2 linked regions of the Homo sapiens genome follow. The protein of the gene in region 1 purifies or fractionates together with the protein of each later gene. This does not show direct contact. Each region holds a gene or a part of one and is shown in the gene's direction. Other genes may lie near its edges.

The links.
Region 2: the proteins of DLG3 (region 1) and ARHGAP17 purify together in Homo sapiens (co-immunoprecipitation; 2 studies listed by BioGRID and IntAct, with this or other methods). This does not show direct contact.

The regions. Positions count from the first base shown.
Region 1 is NC_000023.11:70,446,175-70,456,077, forward strand, and holds part of DLG3 (disks large homolog 3), read left to right. Parts: intron 1-2,738; coding exon 2,739-2,789; intron 2,790-3,184; coding exon 3,185-3,309; intron 3,310-3,515; coding exon 3,516-3,685; intron 3,686-3,994; coding exon 3,995-4,131; intron 4,132-4,464; coding exon 4,465-4,609; intron 4,610-5,692; coding exon 5,693-5,852; intron 5,853-6,117; exon of another isoform or gene 6,118-6,447; coding exon of another isoform or gene 6,448-6,581; intron 6,582-6,781; exon of another isoform or gene 6,782-7,132; intron 7,133-7,462; coding exon 7,463-7,619; intron 7,620-8,039; coding exon 8,040-8,142; intron 8,143-9,002; exon of another isoform or gene 9,003-9,089; intron 9,090-9,569; exon of another isoform or gene 9,570-9,903. UniProt on the Homo sapiens protein: Required for learning most likely through its role in synaptic plasticity following NMDA receptor signaling.
Region 2 is NC_000016.10:24,926,811-24,936,713, reverse strand, and holds part of ARHGAP17 (rho GTPase-activating protein 17), read left to right. Parts: intron 1-1,074; coding exon 1,075-1,244; intron 1,245-5,309; coding exon 5,310-5,930; intron 5,931-7,053; coding exon of another isoform or gene 7,054-7,100; exon of another isoform or gene 7,101-7,101; intron 7,102-8,981; coding exon of another isoform or gene 8,982-8,989; exon of another isoform or gene 8,990-9,030; intron 9,031-9,903. UniProt on the Homo sapiens protein: Rho GTPase-activating protein involved in the maintenance of tight junction by regulating the activity of CDC42, thereby playing a central role in apical polarity of epithelial cells.

The DNA.
Region 1 (9,903 bases):
GATGGCTGTGTTTGTGTGTGTGGCTACATGTATATGTGTGTGAGCATGTGGCTGCAAGAGTGTGCACGCGTGTGCCTGGTGTGTGTGTGTGAGTGTGTGTTTGTATGTGTTGTCTCTGGTGAGAGGCGCTTGACAGGCAAGGGAGGGGAGAGGAAGGAGGCGAGAGACATGTCCCAAGCAAGGCTGAGAGGCTGCTGAGAAGGACGGACTCTTTTGTCCAAGCAGCTCTGTAGTGTGTGTGCCGGGGTGGGGTGGCGGGGGGCGGGGGGAGATTTGAAGGAACTGAAGCAAGCCTCCTCGCTCTAGAGCAGGCATGGTGCCTGGAGCCGGCAAGGGGCAGCTGCCCTGGTGCAGAGACTGGCCCCAGTGGGGCATGTCCCCCTTGGGTACCTCCAGATGTGAGAGGGCTTAGCCCCCCAGCCCTGACTTGGCACAGCTTGGGAGCCCCTGGGTGCTGGGCACAACTCCGGCTTCCACTCCCAGCCTAAACTGCCAGCTTAGAAAATGGAAGGAGCATCTGTGGGAGAAGCAGCAAAATGGAGGCTGGGCTGGCAGAGCCAGGTCCCTGGCACGCAAGGCGGAGGGCCTGTCTGGTTATCCGGCTCTGCAGCTCCTAGGGTGGGGAGAGAGGAAGAGGAGGCTTTGCTGTCGAGGGCAGGTGATGACTTCCCCAAGCTGGTGACCGTTCTGGCTGCCTCTGTCCTCTGGGGATAGGATGTGCTCTCACTCAGAGGCAAAGGTGGGGACTTCCTGGGGAGAAGAGCCCTCAGTTCTGGCCTTCTGTCTGTCCACACTTACTGCTTTCCCACATCCCTTGCCTTGGCCTCTTGCCCTTTCCAGCGAGTCCCTCTCTCTCCTTTGCCCCCTCTCTGTCCTGGAGGCCTTTCTCTCGCAAACACCCTCTTATGCTTGTCCTGCCCGGCTGGGAGACAGGTGGCAATCCCAGGCTGGGCCAGTTGGCCAAGGTTTCTTTGCCAGGGCTGATCCCTGGATGGCTCCTGGCCCTGAGAACAAGGTCCTTGAGTAGGGGTGGGGGCTAGAGCGTGGACCACTGGGAACGGGAAGCCTCTGGGTACCACTGGGGCTGGGCTTGAGGCATGGCTTGTCACATGTGGGCACACATGGTACACCAAATGCACACAAGAGCCACATGGGTGTCCCTTTGCTTATGTGTCTGTTGCATGGTACTTAAGGCAGCTGTGTTGGTTTCGGGTCTCTAAGGAGCCTTCAGTTCTTCTTCCTGGGGTCACAGACCAGGGTAAGGCTGTAGCTGGAGTCCTCCCACCAACTCCCACAGCTGCAGAGCCAGCCCAGAAATGGTGGAGGCATGATGAGCTAGTCCTCTCTCCCTCTCCTCCTCTCTGCTTCTTGAAGCCAAAGCTGTGTGGGGTGGAGGTGGGACGGGGGAAGCACAGCAGGACATGTGGAGGAGCCCCCACCCTGGTTTCCAGCTCCCCACTTCTGAGGAGGAGGCTAGAGGTCAGGGAAGGGACAACATAGCCAGAGAAAGGTGGGGGAGGGGTGCCAGGGTACCTGGGGAGACAGGCAAGAGGGCTTCTCCATTCTTGGAGGTGAAAGTGGGAGCCAGCAGGCAGGTGCTGCTTGTATGTCCAGAATCACATTTTCACTTGACAAATAGATACACACATGTCCTGTCTGGGAGGCCATCTCTGTGGGTTGGCCAAATCACCCCTGTGTTTCTGACCCCTTCCCTTGCCTCTTCTTGCATGGCTACTACATATTGAAAACCATGGACTCTGCTGCCAATCAGCCTGTGGGTCACCAACTTCTCCCTCATGGGGAATCTTGTCTACCCTGCTCCAGTCCCACCCGTGGCTTTGTCTCTGACTCCTGACCAGATCCCACCCTCGCCCTTTCTGCTGGGAAAAACAAAGGGCTCAGAATCAAAAATCCTTTGGTAGAAAATGGATTAGGACTTTGACTCCTTCTGCCTATTTGAGGAATTGGGTTCCTGGAGTCCAAGAAAGAGGTATAGAGTGAAGACTCACGAGGTGCTCCAAAGTGGGGCAACTGTCCTTTTTCCCATGAGCTCTGCTGGGGTACGGGGATGAGTGACCAAAACATCAGTGGCCTTAAGAGCTTACTGTAATCAAAAGAACACCTGGATATCCTATTGCTCTGTCACTAATTCCCAGTGTGCCCTTAGGCACATCCCATGTCTTCTCTGGGCCTCCGTGTCACCTACTGTCACATAAAGGGGATAGGACAAGATGATGTCTGCTGTCCTTCCAGTTCGGACACAGTGGGAGTCTATGATCCCCCAGTCAGGGAGAACTGTGGTTCAGAAGGGGAAGGGTTATCTGTCTAGGCCACTGGGTATCCCCTATGGACACTGGGTGTGGCATGGTTTGCCTGCCATGCTCCATCTCTGCCATCCCCCTTAGGCCAGGCCTGCACCCCTCCTAGTGAACCCTGAGACACTGAAGCACAGCCTCTCGGTGAGTGCACCACTGGCTGGCTCAGTCTCAGACAATTGATCTGGGCTAAATGAGCAGCTTGGTTTGGGCTGATATGGTTGGAAGCAAAGCAGGGATTGGTGGGGTGAGTGAGGAGCGGCCTCTTCCAGGTCAGCCTGTCCTCATCTGTGGCCAAGAGGTGACCTGGGGTGCACTTGGGCTCTTCTACTCTGTGGGAGTAGGGGAGGAGGCAGGTTGACTAAGGGGCAGATGGCTGGAAGGGCAGGGGGCACTAAGGGAACTGCCTGTGTCTCCCCCTAGGTGAATGGCAGTGATGGCATGTTCAAATATGAGGAAATCGTACTTGAGAGGGTGAGTCTGCCAGTGGGGAAAAGCGGAAAGGGAAGGAGAGGGTTGGAGCCAGGATAAGGGAGACCCCTGAATCATGGTTTCAAGACCCATGGGGGGACCTGCATTTAGAGGATGGTGAAACAGCGGCCCTCAGAGGCTGCTTCACTGCATCAATCAATCAACCCACTAACAAATATTAATTGACCTTGCTCACTGAGGCCTGGGGAATTGGGGAGGGGATGGGTTTCCCAAAATGATCAGCAGAGGCTGGGTGTCTGACAAATGTGCCCAGCCTGCCATGGCCCCTTCTGAGGCCTGGAGAACTAGCTCTGGGATATAAGGGGAGATGAGGTACCCAGAACTCTCCTTTGTGCCCTCAGAGTGAACAGACTGTGCCTTTCCACCCACTTCTGCAGGGCAACTCTGGCCTGGGCTTCAGTATCGCAGGTGGCATCGACAATCCCCATGTCCCTGATGACCCTGGCATCTTTATTACCAAGATTATCCCTGGTGGAGCAGCTGCCATGGATGGGAGGCTGGGGTGAGATGGCCTGGAAGCAGGGTTGTGGGTGGCAGGGACAGGATCGAGATGAGGGGAGGAAAGCCTGCCTGGCAGGATGACCCTTCCATTAGATCTGAGGGCGGGGTGGGAGGGCAGAGGAGGGGAGGACAGAGAAGTGGGAGGAAGCAGGAGAGGGGGTGGAGGGGTAGGGGCACAGTGTCATGCCTCTCGGGCTTCCCCCACAGGGTGAATGACTGTGTGCTGCGGGTGAATGAGGTGGACGTGTCGGAGGTGGTACACAGCCGGGCGGTGGAGGCGCTGAAGGAGGCAGGCCCTGTGGTGCGATTGGTGGTGCGGAGGCGACAGCCTCCACCCGAGACCATCATGGAGGTCAACCTGCTCAAAGGGCCCAAAGGTGCGGCCCTCCAGGTTCCTGTGCTCCAGCCAGAGCCTTAGGCCCCAGATCCCATCTTGCCCCATAGGGAATTGGAAGGGAATGGCCTTACTCCTTGCCTGACTCCCCCTGTTCCAACTCACAGCCTACTTTTTTGACCTCAGGCCTCACCCTTACTCATCTCAGGATGGCAGCTTAGCGTTTGGATCCCCCGGGGGGAGCTCCTGTGGGGCCAGTGGGTTGGCTGGGGGAGGGGGTTTGGATTTGGGATCGACAACACTTTAACCTCTCCTTGTGGCCCTCTCCCACCTCCTGCTGGCTCCCGCTCAGGCCTGGGTTTCAGCATTGCTGGGGGTATTGGCAACCAGCACATCCCAGGAGACAACAGCATCTACATCACCAAGATCATTGAGGGGGGTGCTGCTCAGAAGGATGGACGCCTACAGATTGGGGACCGGCTGCTGGCGGTGAGACAGACTTCATGGGGATGCCCAAATGGTAGGGTAGGGAGGAGGAGCTCCAGTACCCCTTACTCCGCCTAAACCTCACTCAGGGATGAGGCATCATGGGGGAATTTCAAGAGTTATCATCTGTGTTGTGTTTGCCCAGATACAAAGGCCCTAATTCTTTCTGTGGCCAGGGTCTTGCCCTATCCCCTACCTCCTGCCTCTGCTCCTCACAGCACTATACTTGGGCCTTTGTTAGCATGCTGTTGAATTTCACTGAAAAGGCATCCCTCGAGTTCCCTGGAGAAGCCTCTCCTTCTTCCAAGTCCCAGCCTGAGGCCTCTCCTCTTCTAGGTGAACAACACCAATCTGCAGGATGTGAGGCACGAGGAAGCTGTGGCCTCACTGAAGAACACATCTGATATGGTGTATTTGAAGGTGGCCAAGCCAGGCAGCCTCCACCTCAACGACATGTACGCTCCCCCTGACTACGCCAGCAGTACGTACTCATCAGCCCCTGTCCCTGGTCTAAAGCTCTGTCCCCTGGTTTCTGGAGGGGAAGAAGTTCATACCCTTTGTTAAGAGAGGGCAAGCAGCTTTGCTCAGTGGTGGCACTGTAGCAGCCAATAAGGTTTATCTGAGGCGCCATTATTGCTAATTGAAAACTTTGCTCAGTACCCCATCGTGAAGACTTGCCATAGAGTCAGCATTGGCAATTTTTGACAATTTCTATGGAGAGTGAATTTTAAAAAGAGGAGAGAGAGAAGCCGCAGAGGATAGTGCACAGAACTGAGTCCAGATCCCAGTTCTGTCTTTGTTTTTTTGTTTGTTTGTTTGAGACGGAGTCTTGCTCTGTCGCCAGGCTGGAGTGCAGTGGCACGATGTCAGCTCACTGCGAACTCCACCTCCTGGGTTCAAGCAATTCTCCTGCCTCAGCCTCCCGAGTAGCTGGGATTACAGGTGCCTGCCACCATGCCTGGCTAATTTTTTGTATTTTTAGTAGAGACGGGGTTTCTCCATGTTGGCAAGGATGGTCTCGATCTCCTGACCTCGTGATCCACCCACCTCGGCCTCCCAAAGTGCTGGGATTACAGGCTTGAGCCACCGTGCCTGGCCCCCAGCTCTGTCCCTTAGAGCTGGGTGCCCTTAGACAAGTCCCTTTCACCTGTTTTTTGTTTCCTCTTTGGCAAAAGGGAGCTAATGATGTATGTGCTGCCTTCCTCATAGGACTGCTGCAAGGATCAAATGAGATCATGGATGAGAAAACCCTTGGAAAACTGTATTAGGCTATAGAGATGTGAGGGATTATTATTAGTCACACCTCTAGTCATGCCTTTCTTTGTAGACTGCCTTGACTTCAGCTCTTTCTAAGACTCACAGGAGTGAGCCAAGGATTTAGAAAGGGACTGCGGAGGAGGAACCCTGGGTGGCGGGTGGATGGAGTGGGGAGGTGCGGCCTGAGGAATCAGCATCCCTTGGTCTCTTTTGCATCTGAAGTGGGGTGTGGGGGAAAGTCCTTGAGGAGTTTGGGGTACCTCCCTGGACCAGTCTCTGAACTTTTCTCTCCCTTTCTTGATTCCAGCTTTTACTGCCTTGGCTGACAACCACATAAGCCATAATTCCAGCCTGGGTTATCTCGGGGCTGTGGAGAGCAAGGTCAGCTACCCTGCTCCTCCTCAGGTTCCCCCCACCCGCTACTCTCCTATTCCCAGGCACATGCTGGCTGAGGAGGACTTCACCAGGTAAGACCCCGCCCCCAACATCCCATTCAATCTACCCAGAAATTGGGGAGGGGAGGAATCCGTTTCTGGCCGGCCACAGGCTCCTTGTAGTATGGCAAAGAAGAGGATAAGGCCCTCATCACTCCCGGCTTTGGGGTCCGAGGCCCTCTCTCAGGCCTTGGGGACCTAGAGAGGGACAGAAGTGGCTGCAGGGACAAGCTCTACCATCAGGGGGAGTGCCGAGTGAGTGGCCCCGGTCCAAAAGTGCAGATAAAGAAAGGATGGGGTGGAGCGTTTAGGGGGCTGAGGAGGCGAGGGCAGCGGAGTTTCCTGCCCTGAGATAGTTGCAGCCCGCTCTGCTGCAACCATTTCAAATTAGAGAAGAAAGCAGTTCAGCCGGTGGGGCTGGCGGGACTCTGACCGGCCCGGTGGCCTCGCCGGCAACGGCCCCGCCCCGCTGGCGGCAGCGGCGGCGGCAGCGGCTGCGCGGGGCCTGGAACTGGTCGGGCCGGCTGGGGTTCCGGGGGACAGGTTTGCAGGGTGGGGCCCGAGAGGCTGGCGGGCAGGCAGCAGTGGAGCCGGAAGGGTAGGCAGCCAGGGGAGAGAGAGAGGAGCTATGGAGAGGGCCCGCAAGTTCTCGGGCTCCGGCTTGGCCATGGGCTTGGGCTCCGCCTCCGCTTCGGCCTGGAGGAGGGCTTCGCAGAGGTGGGCCTGGCCGCTCCGCTCCCTGCGGCCCGGAGGGGATGCCAGGTAGGAGTGGAGGGCTAGGAGCAAGAGCATCCGGGACTCAGGGAGGGAGTCTCGCCCCTGAGACTGGGAGCAAGAAAGGAAGAGTCTTGCGTGGGGCTTTGGGCTCCTCCGAGGAAAGATGCTTGTAACAAGTGAAGGCGGTGGGCCGGGAACGTGCCCTGGGAGTTGGGCGGATGACACTGTGACCTTTTACAGAGGGCTTCCTTAGATGTGGTTAGTTTTATTCGCATTTCTCATGTGCTTGTCTGCTCTCTTCAGTTTGGATTCTAAACTCCTTTTGGGGACCTGGGATCCCCCTAAGAACCCAGGCGCTGCAACCCCCTGGGGCTACATAGTGTTAGCTGCTGATTAAATATGTTGTTGGGGCAGCAGGTAGGAGGGGTCATAGTTGATGGGTGAGATTTTGAGACTGCAGAAGAGTGTCTGTGAAGTAAGTGTGCACATCCTGTGGATGATGAGTGCAGTCAACCCCAGGGTGACTCCACTGCCCCTAACTGCTTCCTCTTCTTGTGGTCCAGGGTCCATCACACGGGTTGGTAGGATAGGAGAATCTGGGAAGGAAGAGGACCAGTGAGTGGGCCTGAGATTTGGTCTCTGGAGTTCAGGGTAGGGATTTGTTCACCCGAGAGAGTAGGGGACTGTCCACTGGGAAGTTGACTGCAAGCCCTCGGGAAGAAGGGAGGGAAGAGGAACTGAAACTTGGCACCTGACAGAACAGCAGCCAAGCAGGTTTCAGGAGACAAAGGGAGGCTCAGGGTATCATACATAGGGAACCACGTCCTTACTCCCTACAGCAAGTATGGACCTTGTTCCAGGCTGGCCCTCAAAGGACAACAGTCCATATCTACCTAGTCCTGACTCCTCCACTCCTTTCCCACCAGAGAGCCTCGCAAGATCATCCTGCACAAAGGCTCCACAGGCCTGGGCTTCAACATCGTAGGAGGAGAGGATGGAGAAGGCATTTTTGTCTCCTTCATCCTGGCAGGAGGCCCAGCTGACCTGAGTGGGGAGCTGCGCAGGGGAGACCGGATCTTATCGGTGAGGAGACAAAGGAGAGGTGGGAGGATGGGAACTGTGCCAGTCTAAAATGGAGAGCGAGAGACCTTACTTCCTCCGAGGAATGCTTCTTGAGATGAAGGGAGGGCTAAGGACTGGAGAAAACTTCTCTTGTTTTTATAGACATCCTTAGTGACAGGGACCGGGACTAGACTTATCTTTGAAGAGGAAATGAATGCCTATTGGATCTTAACCCTGATTGGCATTTGACCTTTATGAAGATAATTGTTACACTAGAGATGTCGTATCCTTTAGGCCTTGTTTTAGGGGCAAGGTTGGAATATTGGGAAAGGCATCTAAACAGGCTTAGGGGTGGGGTACCCATCTCCCTCTCCTAACTGCTAATGCAGAGGACCCTCTTTCTTGCTTTTGGGGTGGCTCACAGCTTCTCTCTTTGGACAGGTGAATGGAGTGAATCTGAGGAATGCAACTCATGAGCAGGCTGCAGCTGCTCTGAAACGGGCCGGCCAGTCAGTCACCATTGTGGCCCAGTACAGACCTGAAGGTAGGAGAAGGGAAGGTGGGAAGAGATGATGTGGGGGAGTTAGACTTATATTATGTGTTGGCTTTTTGCCATCCTAGGTAACAAAGCCACTTGACCAGGTCCCTTCTACCTAGAGCAGTAACCTCTTCCTCTCTCCTTTTCCTGCTGGGTAGGGGTTGGTTTGGGCGGCTTGAAAGCATCAATTAAGGCTGTGCTCAGAGCCTGCTGATGTGGGCTGCAGTGCAGGAGAAGGCCAGTAGTGGGCAGCAGCCTACTGGAAGCAGCATCCAAAGATTAGGGCGACTGGAAAAAGGGGAGGGGGCGGAGGGCCCACAGGAGAAGACTGGGAACTGTGTGCCCTGGAAGAGGAGAGCAGCTCTTGGTTAGAAGGACCTCAGGTAGAAGAGATCCGACCTCTTAAGAGATCTTGGGCCAAACCTCTGTGACCCCCACTCCCCTCCCCTCATCAAGATGACCGTGAAAGACCCATAAACGCGCTGAAAAGGTGATACTATGCCCTTGGGATAGGCCAACTGGAGTCGACTCCCTCCCCTCCGGGGGGCCTTCTTTGTATTCTCAGTGAGCAGTCCTTGGCTGGGGCGAATGGGCGGGGCTGGTCATGCAAATAAAGGCGTTTGATTGGCTGGGGCCAACCGAGGCCCAGGTGCCGAGGTGAGCCGCGGGAAGGCGCGCCCTAGCCTGCGGGCCAGTGGAGTGGCCATTGGCCGGCTGAGGGCGGCCTCCAGCCGCATGCCCCGCCCCCTGACCCAGGAGGAGGGCGGCAGGCGCCCCTCCTTCCCCCCATCGCGCGCCTCAGGCGTCTCCTCCTCCTCCCTCCTTCCCCCTCCTCTCTCCTCCCCTCCTCCCGCGCGCCCCGCTTTGTGTCCGTGGTCTCCCGCGCGGGACGGAGGGACTGGCCGGAGCTGGCGCTTTCTCAGCACTAGATCTGGACTCCGACCCGGCGCCAGGTGAGGTGGGGCGGACGGGGGTCAGGCCCCCTCGCAGTCCCCCCTAACCTCTCTACGGCTCTGTTCTCAGCCTCTTTTCCAACACTGCGTGCCCCAATTCTGCCCTCTCCCTCGAATGCCTTCGTTGCGTGCCCCCAGGCTCCTTCTGAGACCCTCCTCAGGGCCCCTCGGAGCGCCGCGCGGGGCTCAGCGCCCCCTCACCCTACACTGGGCCCAGTCTGGCCTTCACCTCTTAGCCATCACCTCTCCCCCACAGCGAGCTGTGCCCCCTTCTCACCCCAGGGCCTCTGTCCTGCCTCAGCCCCCTTCCTGCTGGCTGCTGCGCCCCCAAGCAGCTCCCTAATCCCTTGCCCTAGAGGAATTTTCTAAATCTTCCCCTCCCCCGACACCCATTTCTCCACCCAACCTGTCCACCTCTGAGAACAGCCGCGACCGGCTTGGTATTCTGCCCCCTCCCTTTTGTTTGCAAGGGATTCGTACCATTCCCGACTTCTTTCGCCTCCTCCTCCCCTTTGTCCCCTAGGGCTGCAGCGCCTGGGCTCCTGGGACACCTAGGCCCTGTGGGCCGATTACTAAGGTGGAAGGGACCGACCTCTCCCTGGCAGGTGCTCTATTTCCGCGATGAGAGGGGGAGAGGCTGGGAGCCCCGTCGCCAAGCCGAAAGGGATGGAAAGCGCCTACCTTTGTCCTTTCCGTTCCCCTCCCCCCATGCTCCTTCAGTGCCTCAAGATCCTGAAGGGAAAGAAGAGAGAGCCTGCGACCTTTTCCACGAGGCTCTTCTGATCGAGGACAGAAGTGCAGGGAGGTAACTCAC
Region 2 (9,903 bases), on another chromosome or scaffold:
TTTTTTTTGAGACAGCATCTCGCTCTGTCAGCCAGGCTGGAGTGCAGTGGCATGATCTTGACTCACGGCAACCTCCACCTCCTGGGTTCAAGCGATTCTCCCACCTCAGCCTCCAGAGTAGCTGGGACTACAGGCATGCGCCACCACGCCTGGCTAATATTTGTATTTTTAGTAGAGACGGGGTTTCACCTTGTTGGCCAGGCTGGTCTTGAACTCCTGACCTCAAGTGATCCATGTGCCTCAGCCTCCCAAAGTGCTGGCGTTACAGGCGTGAGTCACTGTGCCTGGCCTGCTGTTTGTTTTTTATACTGTATTCTGTAGGTATTTTTATGTACATTACACTAATGTTATTCACTCTTTGGTGACCTTGACAAAATGGAGCTACAGAGTTTGGTATAAAAAGTTCTGGGCCAGGAAACAGGAAGCCTGAATTCTGATCTCTATCCTGCTGCTACCAACTCTGGACTTCGAGTAGTCATTTAGCCTCTGAGTTCTCCTTCTTCAGTCCAAGTTATTGATAATAATCAAGCCCTTTATCATTTAGGGTCTTATTTTGCCATGGCTTTTGCTTAGTTTTGTACAGTGTATATGTCAACATGTAAAAGCCATTTCATGGTATTAAGTACTGCCCAATTTAAGTCCAAACGCAGTAGAACTGAAAACTCCGCATTGGTTGCTTTGAAATGGTCTCTCTGATGATACTGGAGTGGCAGAGTCGTTGGAGTCCAGTCTGATGCAACGAATCTCATAAAATAAATAGTCCTATAGTCCCGGCTACTCAGGGTGCTGAGGCAGGAGAGGATTGCTTGAGTCCAGAAATTTGAGACCAACCTGGGCAACATAGCAAGACCTCATCTCTTAAAAAAAAAATGGCACCAAGTAAACATTAGCTCTTTATATGGCACCAAGTAAACATTAGCTTTATAAGCCCAGTGTGAGCTAGTTAGAATTTCAGATCCTTTTCCTGCCTGCCGAAGTGAAAACTCTGCTTGGAATCTTATGTTTTATGTGCAGTATGTTCAGATTTTCTAGCTGGGATTGTCTGACGTCTAACTTGACTTTTACTCCTCTTAGTCCTCCCAAACCGAAGGACCCTGTATCTGCAGCTGTGCCAGCACCAGGGAGAAACAACAGTCAGATAGCATCTGGCCAAAATCAGCCCCAGGCAGCTGCTGGCTCCCACCAGCTCTCCATGGGCCAACCTCACAATGCTGCAGGGCCCAGCCCGCATACACTGCGCCGAGGTAAGCAGCCACCGTCCTCCTTGCCCTCAGGGAAGCCTGTGCAGACCTCCTTAAGTTAGTGCAAGGATTCAGATGGTGAGGTTTGTGGCCAGATCTTTTCTATGTCTGTTGTAAAATCCCAAGCAGAAAATTCAGTCATTCAAGAGAAAAGTCATTAAAGAAAAAGGAAAAAATAGAGAACAGAAAAGCAGACATTTAGTTTTTCCTTAGGCGTGACAAAGCTTAACAAACAGTCAGTTCTGCAGAAATGCTCCCAGTTTTCCTGGTGTCCCAAGCCCTCGCTCTGTTTGGAGACTACCACAGCCTCTGTACTTCTCAGCTTTGTGGGTCTGGGAGGCACTTTTGCTTCGGAATTGGGGTGAAGGCTTTCTAGGTCCTGATTAACAGAATCTGAACTGCTCCCACCTGTCTTCCCTGCAGTCCTCCACCCAGCAGCCAGGGGAATTGCTTTAAAACTCCAAGCAGATCATGTCGTCTCTTGGTTAAACTCTTCAGTGGCTTCCATGCGAACTTCTCACCCTGGGTTCTCTGTGCTTTGGTGGGGCCTACCTCTGAGCCCAGAGCTTACACTCCCTCCTCTCAACACACTCCACTCTTGGTTCCTTGAATGAACTAAGTTCATCCCCTCCTTAGGGCTTCCAGAACATTCTGTCCCATATCTTCACATGGTTTCTTCTTACCATTCAGGTCTCACCTCAAAAATCACTTCTTCCAGCTGGGCGTGGTGGCTCACACCTATAATCCCAGCACTTTGGGAGGCTGAGGCAGGAAGATCGCTTGAGGCCAGGAGTTGGAGACCAATCTGGTCAACATAGTGAGAGCCCACCTCTACAAAAAAAATTTTAAAAATTATCTGGGTGTGGTGACACACACCTATAGTCCCAGCTACTCAGGAGGCTGAGGCAGGAGGATCACTTGAGCCCAGGAGGTCGAGCCTGCAGTGAGCTATGATTGCACCACCGCACTCCAGCCTGGACAACAGAGTGAGACCCCATCTCTAAAATAAAAAAGAGAGGCCAGGCGCAGTGGCTCACACCAGTAATCCCAGCACTTTGGGAGGCCGGGGTGGGTGGATCACTTGAGCCAGGAGTTCAAGCCTGGCCAACATGGTGAAACCCCATCTCTACTAAAAATACAAAAATTAGCCGGGCATGGTGCTTGCACGCCTGTGGTCCCAGCTACTCAAGAGGCTGAGGCAGGAGAATTGCTTGAACCTGGGAGGCAGAGGTTGCAGTGAGCCAAGATTGTGCCACTGCACCCCAGCCTGGCCAACAGAGCAAGACTCTGTCCCGAAAAAAGAAAAAAAAATGGATTAAATTCACTGTGTCTGTCTATAGAAGCATGGTCTTTACAAAGCACTACACAAATGTTAGTGGAATTTCTACAAATCATAGGCAGGGAGGCAAATCCGAGTCCACTGCTTGGTTGCAGACCCCCACTTTATTCTTCTTCAGGCTGCCTCTCTGGGCCCTGTCATCTTATCAGGATCTCAGCTGATCCTTGAGGGAAGTTAGTCTTCTGGACCTAGATTCCAGGTGTGACTCTGGTTTTGGATTAAGAAGACTCTTTTCCTTATAGCCGCATTCAGAGTCTTTCATGCTTCCCGAAATCACAGCTCCCAGGCTTCTTCGCAGGATGGGTTTGATTCTTTTTTCCTTCCCCACCCCCTGCGCCTCTGAGGTGGTCTCAGACAAGGCCTCCATTTCTCCCAGCCCCCTCCCCCTGACACTTTGCTCCCACGCTCCCTCTCCCCATCCTCTTCACACCCTTAAATTTCAGGAACGAGCTTTTATTCAGTATGACTTTACAATTAGTATTGCTTAGAACAGAAAACTAGACTTTTTTTTTAAATGCCGATGGCAGTCTGGAGTACAGCTAATGTAAGCTGGTTGGTGGTTTCTGAGTTCCAGGGTTGAAAGTTCCAGACCAGTGTAGCAGAGTAGACTTTACCCTTTTTTCTTTTTTTTTTTCCTTTCTTATGTTTTTTAGAGGCAGGGTCTCGTTTTCTCACCCATGCTGGAATGCAGTGGCGTGATAATAGCTCACTGCATCCTCCAGCCACTGGACTCAAGTGATCCTCCCACTTTGGCCTCTCAAAGTGCTGGTACTACAGGCACATGCCACCATGCCTGGCTGCTTTATTTTTTTGTAGAGTCGGGGTCTCACTGTGTTGCCCAGGCTGGTCTTGAGTGATCTTCCTGCCTCAGCCAGTCAGAGTGCTGGGAATACAGGCATGAGCCACCGAGACTTTACCCTTTTCAATCCTGAATTCTGGGCCCTGTAAACAGGCAGCCGGGGAATAGGGGAAGGAGGAAGAGGAAAAAGCATTCAGGGAGTCCACATGTCATGGGCAGGAGTCTCAGTTCTGCCCCTTACTAGCTGTGTGACCTATTACCAAACACTGGCCCTCTTCAAGCCTCAGTTTTCTTCTCTGTGAAAATGGGGATAACAGAGCTTGCCCTGCAATGAGCTTATGAAACTTGAATGAGATAATTTATATAAATTATAATGTGCATAATTTATATAAAAGGCCTTACTTGGTACTGGTGATAAGAGTGATACATGTTCATTTCTTTCCTTCATTTCCTTCTCCTTCTTTCTTAGAGAACCAGTAGGATCTTAGCAGAGTTTGAAAAAGGCTAAAATCTCTCCTTTCCCCCTACCCCTCCCAGCCCAAAACCAGAGCCCCAGATCTGTTGTTTTCCCTCCTGCCCTCATCAGTCCCAGGTTCCTATCCCTGATCTCAGCTGGTGTAGGGAGGAGAGTGATGTGATTCAGCTCTCTTTAGAGAAATAATTCTAAGGCAACTCTTCCAGATTTATTCATGCTTTTGTCCAGGACATATCTATTAACTCAAATGGTTGCGGAATTGGTAGAAATTCTGTTATTAAGACCAATCAAACCAATCAAACTCTCAAGGAGAAGGTGGCTTGGGATCAGGGGTCATGTTATATCAGGGTGAACTAGTCATGCTTGGTGGTCCCTCCTGGCTGTTCTGCCTCTTTCTGCGTCTTCCCATGGGGCCCTAATGAGGAGGCTGCTAAGTGGGCTGAGGGCAGCACTTCCGTGTCATTGGGGTGGCCTCTGTTAACAGTTTTCTTCTTATTGAACTTTCAAAACGATAGGCCTTTAAAGCCCTTTCAAATGTGCATAATGTACTTAATTTTTAAAATAAACTTGTTTGTTTGGAGTAATTTTGAATTTATAGAAAAGTTGCAAAGATAATGCTGAGAGTTCCCATATGCCCCTTACTCAGTTTCCCCTGTTGTTAATGTGTTACATGACCATGGCACATTTACCCCAGCTCAGAAGTCAACATTGGGCTAGTCCCCCCATCCCCCCCAACTTTTTTTTTTTTTTTGAAATGGTCTCACTCTGTTGCCCAGGCTGGAATTCAGTGGTGTGATCACTGCAGCCTTGGACTTCCCAGGCTCATGGGATCCTCCCACCTCAGCCTCATGAGTAGCTGGGATTACAGGCGCATGCCACCACGCCCGGCTAATTTTTGTAGTTTTTTGTAGAGATGGGGTTTTGCCACGTTGCTCAGGCTGGCCTTGAACTCCTGCACTCAAGTGATCCGCCTGCTTTGGCCTCCCAAAGTGCTGAGATCACAGGCGTGAGCCACTGCACCTTGCGGTTCATTACCATTAACTAGACTCCACATTTTGTTCAGATTTCCCTAGTTTTTCCACTCATGTCCATTTTCTGTCCCAGGATCTCATCCAGGAGCCCACATTATATGTAGTCATCGTATCTTCTTCGTCTCCTGCTGTCTGTGACATGTTCTCCGTCTTTCTGTGCTTTTCTATGGCCTTGATGGTTTTGGAGAGTACTGGTCAGGCATTTTGAAGAAAGGCCTTCAATTTGTGTTTGTCAGATGTTCTTCTGATGGGTTATGGGCTTTGGGGAGGAAGACACAGTGTGGTGCCCTCCTGACCACCTCTCATCAGAGGTACATGATGCTGGTGTACCTTATTACTGGTGATGTTAAATTTGGGCTCCTGGCCAGGGTTGGTTGCTGCCTCACTGTTCCTACTGAAAGGTGTTTTTTCTCTTTTTGTGCAGCTGTTAAAAAACCCGCTCCAGCACCCCCGAAACCGGGCAACCCACCTCCTGGCCACCCCGGGGGCCAGAGTTCTTCAGGAACATCTCAGCATCCACCCAGTCTGTCACCAAAGCCACCCACCCGAAGCCCCTCTCCTCCCACCCAGCACACGGGCCAGCCTCCAGGCCAGCCCTCCGCCCCCTCCCAGCTCTCAGCACCCCGGAGGTACTCCAGCAGCTTGTCTCCAATCCAAGCTCCCAATCACCCACCGCCGCAGCCCCCTACGCAGGCCACGCCACTGATGCACACCAAACCCAATAGCCAGGGCCCTCCCAACCCCATGGCATTGCCCAGTGAGCATGGACTTGAGCAGCCATCTCACACCCCTCCCCAGACTCCAACGCCCCCCAGTACTCCGCCCCTAGGAAAACAGAACCCCAGTCTGCCAGCTCCTCAGACCCTGGCAGGGGGTAACCCTGAAACTGCACAGCCACATGCTGGAACCTTACCGAGACCGAGACCAGTACCAAAGCCAAGGAACCGGCCCAGCGTGCCCCCACCCCCCCAACCTCCTGGTGTCCACTCAGCTGGGGACAGCAGCCTCACCAACACAGCACCAACAGCTTCCAAGATAGTAACAGGTAAGTAGGACATCAATGCCCGTATTTCCTCGTCTGCTCTACATTGCTTTTGTACTACTACATTTTATTTAAGCTTTGATTTATGCCAGGTGTCAGCAAACTACACCCGCAAGCCAAACCAAACCTGTCCTGCAGCCAGTTTTTGTCATTAAAGTTTTATTGGAACACAGCTACACCCATTTGTTAACATATTGTCTGTGGCTGCATTGGTGCTGAAACAGCAGAGCTGGGTAGTCGTGACCAAAGATCCTGTGGCCCACAAAGTTGGAAACATTTACTGCCTGGTCCTTTAAGTTTGCCGACCCCTGACTTATAGTTGCTTGTGTGTTTAAGACCTATGTACGTTTACATTTTTCTCAACATAATGGCTTTTATTCCAGGTGGAAGGTATTTTACAACACGAGCATGAACTTTATTTCTTAGTGAATTCCTCATTAAAATGCTTAAACAGTACTTCTAAGAGTAAAAGTGTTCATATTAAGTACAGAATTTCAGGTATAACTTTAAAAAACATGATTTATGCCAAATTGAATGCTCCAGAAGGGAGATCTCAGGGCACTGTCATGTTCTAATGGCTTGGGAGGGAAGAATCAAGATTTTCCTGTAGACCCAGTGGGAACCTGTTTGGAAGTGGTGGTGATTGTACAGGTTTTAGTGGGCTACCTAATGGCATATTTTTAATAGTCTAGAACATGACCATTTTATTTAACATTTCAAGAATATTTCCATCCCAAATGCTCTAATTTATTATTTAATTTAAGGATGAATATGGGGGTTTCTAGTGTGTTTTTAAAAATGGTAATTAGGGGCCTCAAATAATTTCTTACAGCAGCCTAGTTTAAATTGTTCTAAGTGGAGGCACTTTCGGAAAAGAAGCTGAAATACACCTCTGGGCTTTCCAACCATATTGAGTGACTTTGCAGCTAAAAATGTGCCAAGGTTTCCATTAACCCAAAGGGTGACGGTTAACTGATTCTAACAGCTTTTGATAACTTTTTTCAGGAATATAATACATAATTTGCACATGTTATAAATGGTTAATAACTTTTTTTCTGATGCCATCAGAGCTTTTATTTTGAAAACAACAAAGCCATGTTGGTTTGTTTGTTTTGTTTCCCAATAGATGCCCTTCCTAGTGCCCTCACAGGTGGGGAAGGTTTCCAGGACTAAGGTCTGTAATGGCCCCGAGCAGCTTGCCCCATAGCTCGCCCCACAGCTCCAAATGCTCCTGCTTAGCCGTGTTTTGCATATGTGCTTTTGACCATGTGCTCAGGAGCAGCCGTTTGACCGTGTGCCCTGACAGCCAATAGGCCATCCATTCTGTAGCATATTGACATTTCTTTATTTTTATCAGAAGCACTTTGAGCTGCAGTGCTTCAAATTCGAGGAGTAGATGTCAGTAGATCAAGAGCCTGATTTCAAGCTGCTCTTGAAGAGTATCTTCTTTCTTAGGGGCCAAGCACAGTGGCTCGTGCCTCTAATCCCAGTACTTTGAGTGGCTGAGGCAAGAGGATTGCTTGAGCTCAGGAGTTCGAGACTGCAGTGGGTAGTGATTGTGTCACTGCACACTGCAGTCCAGCCTGCATGACAGAGTGAGACCCTGCCTCTTTTTAAAAAAAAAAAAAAAAAGGAATATCTTCTATCTTTTTGGTGAGCCTCTTAGCAGCAGTCTACTCTTCCCAGTGTGATTTACCTGTCACTGATGGGCTCACCAGCATCCAACCAAAGAGGACCCAGGTGCAGTCAGCACGGGAGGAAATTGTGTCCTTTGTGTCTTGAGCTTTAATTTTAAATTTTTGTATTTTAAGTGCAAGTTAACTGCATGGAGCTTCTTAATTTGATATTTTAAATTCTCAAGACCAAAAAATTAAAAAAAATCTTCCGCCAAATACCCTACACTGAATTATTTTAAATTCCTTTGCATCCTAGCATGCTTACGTTTTGCTTTATTAAACCATATGAGCTTTTTAAAAGGCACTGTGAGCTCATCTAAGTCTGCCGCTGGGTCTACATGTGGACAGCATAAGGCCCTCATCATATGTACAGCTGCTTTAATCAGCTGGCCTGAGCCTTAGGCCTACTGTGGGCCCCTTAGCCAGAGTGCTCACAGCTTAGGTCTGAGTAAGACTTTCTGTAGGAACCGTAAGTGGAAAACCAGAGTGTAGCCTTCAAAACAGGGAGGAGGCCCGGGTGCGATTCCACAATTTCATGCTTGTGACACACCAAAATGTTATTATCAGATATTTCCTTTTATTTAAATGAAAGATTGCAAACCAGAATTATGCCTATTTTTTAATACCATTGTTACCCGGGGTGTATTTATTCCACAAGTTTAGTTTACTGATCTGCTACAACACTGTAATATACTGCCTGTAATTATTAGATAAGTGAAATTTTACATTAAAAATGTGTTTCCCGAAGATACTAGCTATTTAAAAACCGGTCTATGCTATGAATTCTCCTAACTCAAGAAATTCCAGGTTACCAGAGTTATCTTTGTATTACAGAATTAACCTGTACTATCTTAAAATCCCCTGGCCTCCCACTGAAAGTACACAGAAGGCCAACATTTAGAATTTTTTAATCTGCTAGTATTGATCATACTGCTATTAACCATTCTTGGATGTAGCCATTGGGTTTTTCAAGGAGGAAAAAATATATAACTTCCTTGGACAGGATGGTCCTTTATTATGACATAATGTTTTCACTTAGAAAACTTTAGATGGACAAATTCCTGAAAACAGGTTATTCCTTTAGAATTGGATTAAGTTAGAGTTTTAAAGAGTTGGGTTAAGGCTAATGGGATTAAGATAAACTCTTGGGGGGAGATTATTGCTGCCAAGCAGGTTTGGCAGCCAACTTCTCACAGCTCAGCACCAGCACTGGAGGATGCCGGCATTCTGGCATCATTTTGAGTCTCCTGTTAATTGTGACTCTAGAGAGCAGTAAGAGTTTTAATTCCCATGTAAAAGAGTTTACATCTTGCTATTTTTGAAGTAATAGATTTTAGCAAAGAGTATTCTAATTTAAACATTTTATTAAATAATTTAGATGTATGACCTGCCATATTCAGTAAGAACTGAGATTGGAATATTTAATGGTAAGGAAAAGGCACCTGATTGGCCAATGCATTTTTGCTACTTGATGATCATATTTGTGCACTCATGCCTGTTACTAACTGGCCACCCTAACCCTGCCTGCTTGCATCCCTACTAATAGTGCATGCACTGAAGGAGGACTGGCTTTGTTGATGCTTGCTGCAATGATTCGGAATACTAAGTGTGTACCCAGATGTGGAACAGGTGGTCACAGGGCTGTCCTTGTTACTTCTTTAATTTCCATTCTTTTCCATATCAGGCAAGCTTGAGGTATAGTAGGAAGAACACACATTATGGAGTCAGACCTGACTGAGTTAGAATTTCAGCTCTTGGTATAACATAGGCTAGGCACAACCTGGCTGATCTGTAAAGTGGTGACATCTGTCTAAATTGTTGAAGATGAAATAAGAGAAAGTCCAAGATTATTCTGTTAGCCAGTTACAGTTCTTAATATACGCGCAATCTCGGCTCACTGCAAGCTCCGCCTCCCAGGTTCAAGCAATTCTCCTGCCTCAGCCTCCTGAGTACCTGGGATTATAGGCGCCTGCCACCACATCTGGCTATTTTTTTTATTTTTAGTAGAGACGGGGCTTCACCATGTTGGCCAGGCTGGTCTCGAACTCCTGACCTTAGGTGATCCGGCCTCCTCAGCCTCCCAAAGTGCTGGGATTATAGGTGTGAGCCATTGTGCCTGGCCTGCTATTTATCATTTTTATCTAGAAGAAAATAGTTTTAATCAGATTTCTATGTTAGATTCACATATCAGGGTTTTAAAAACTCATACGCCCGGACCCGGCCTTCTAGGACCCAAACACAGGAGACTGGGGGTGGAACCCAGGTATCCATATTTTGATTCTGATGCACCACTTGGTTTT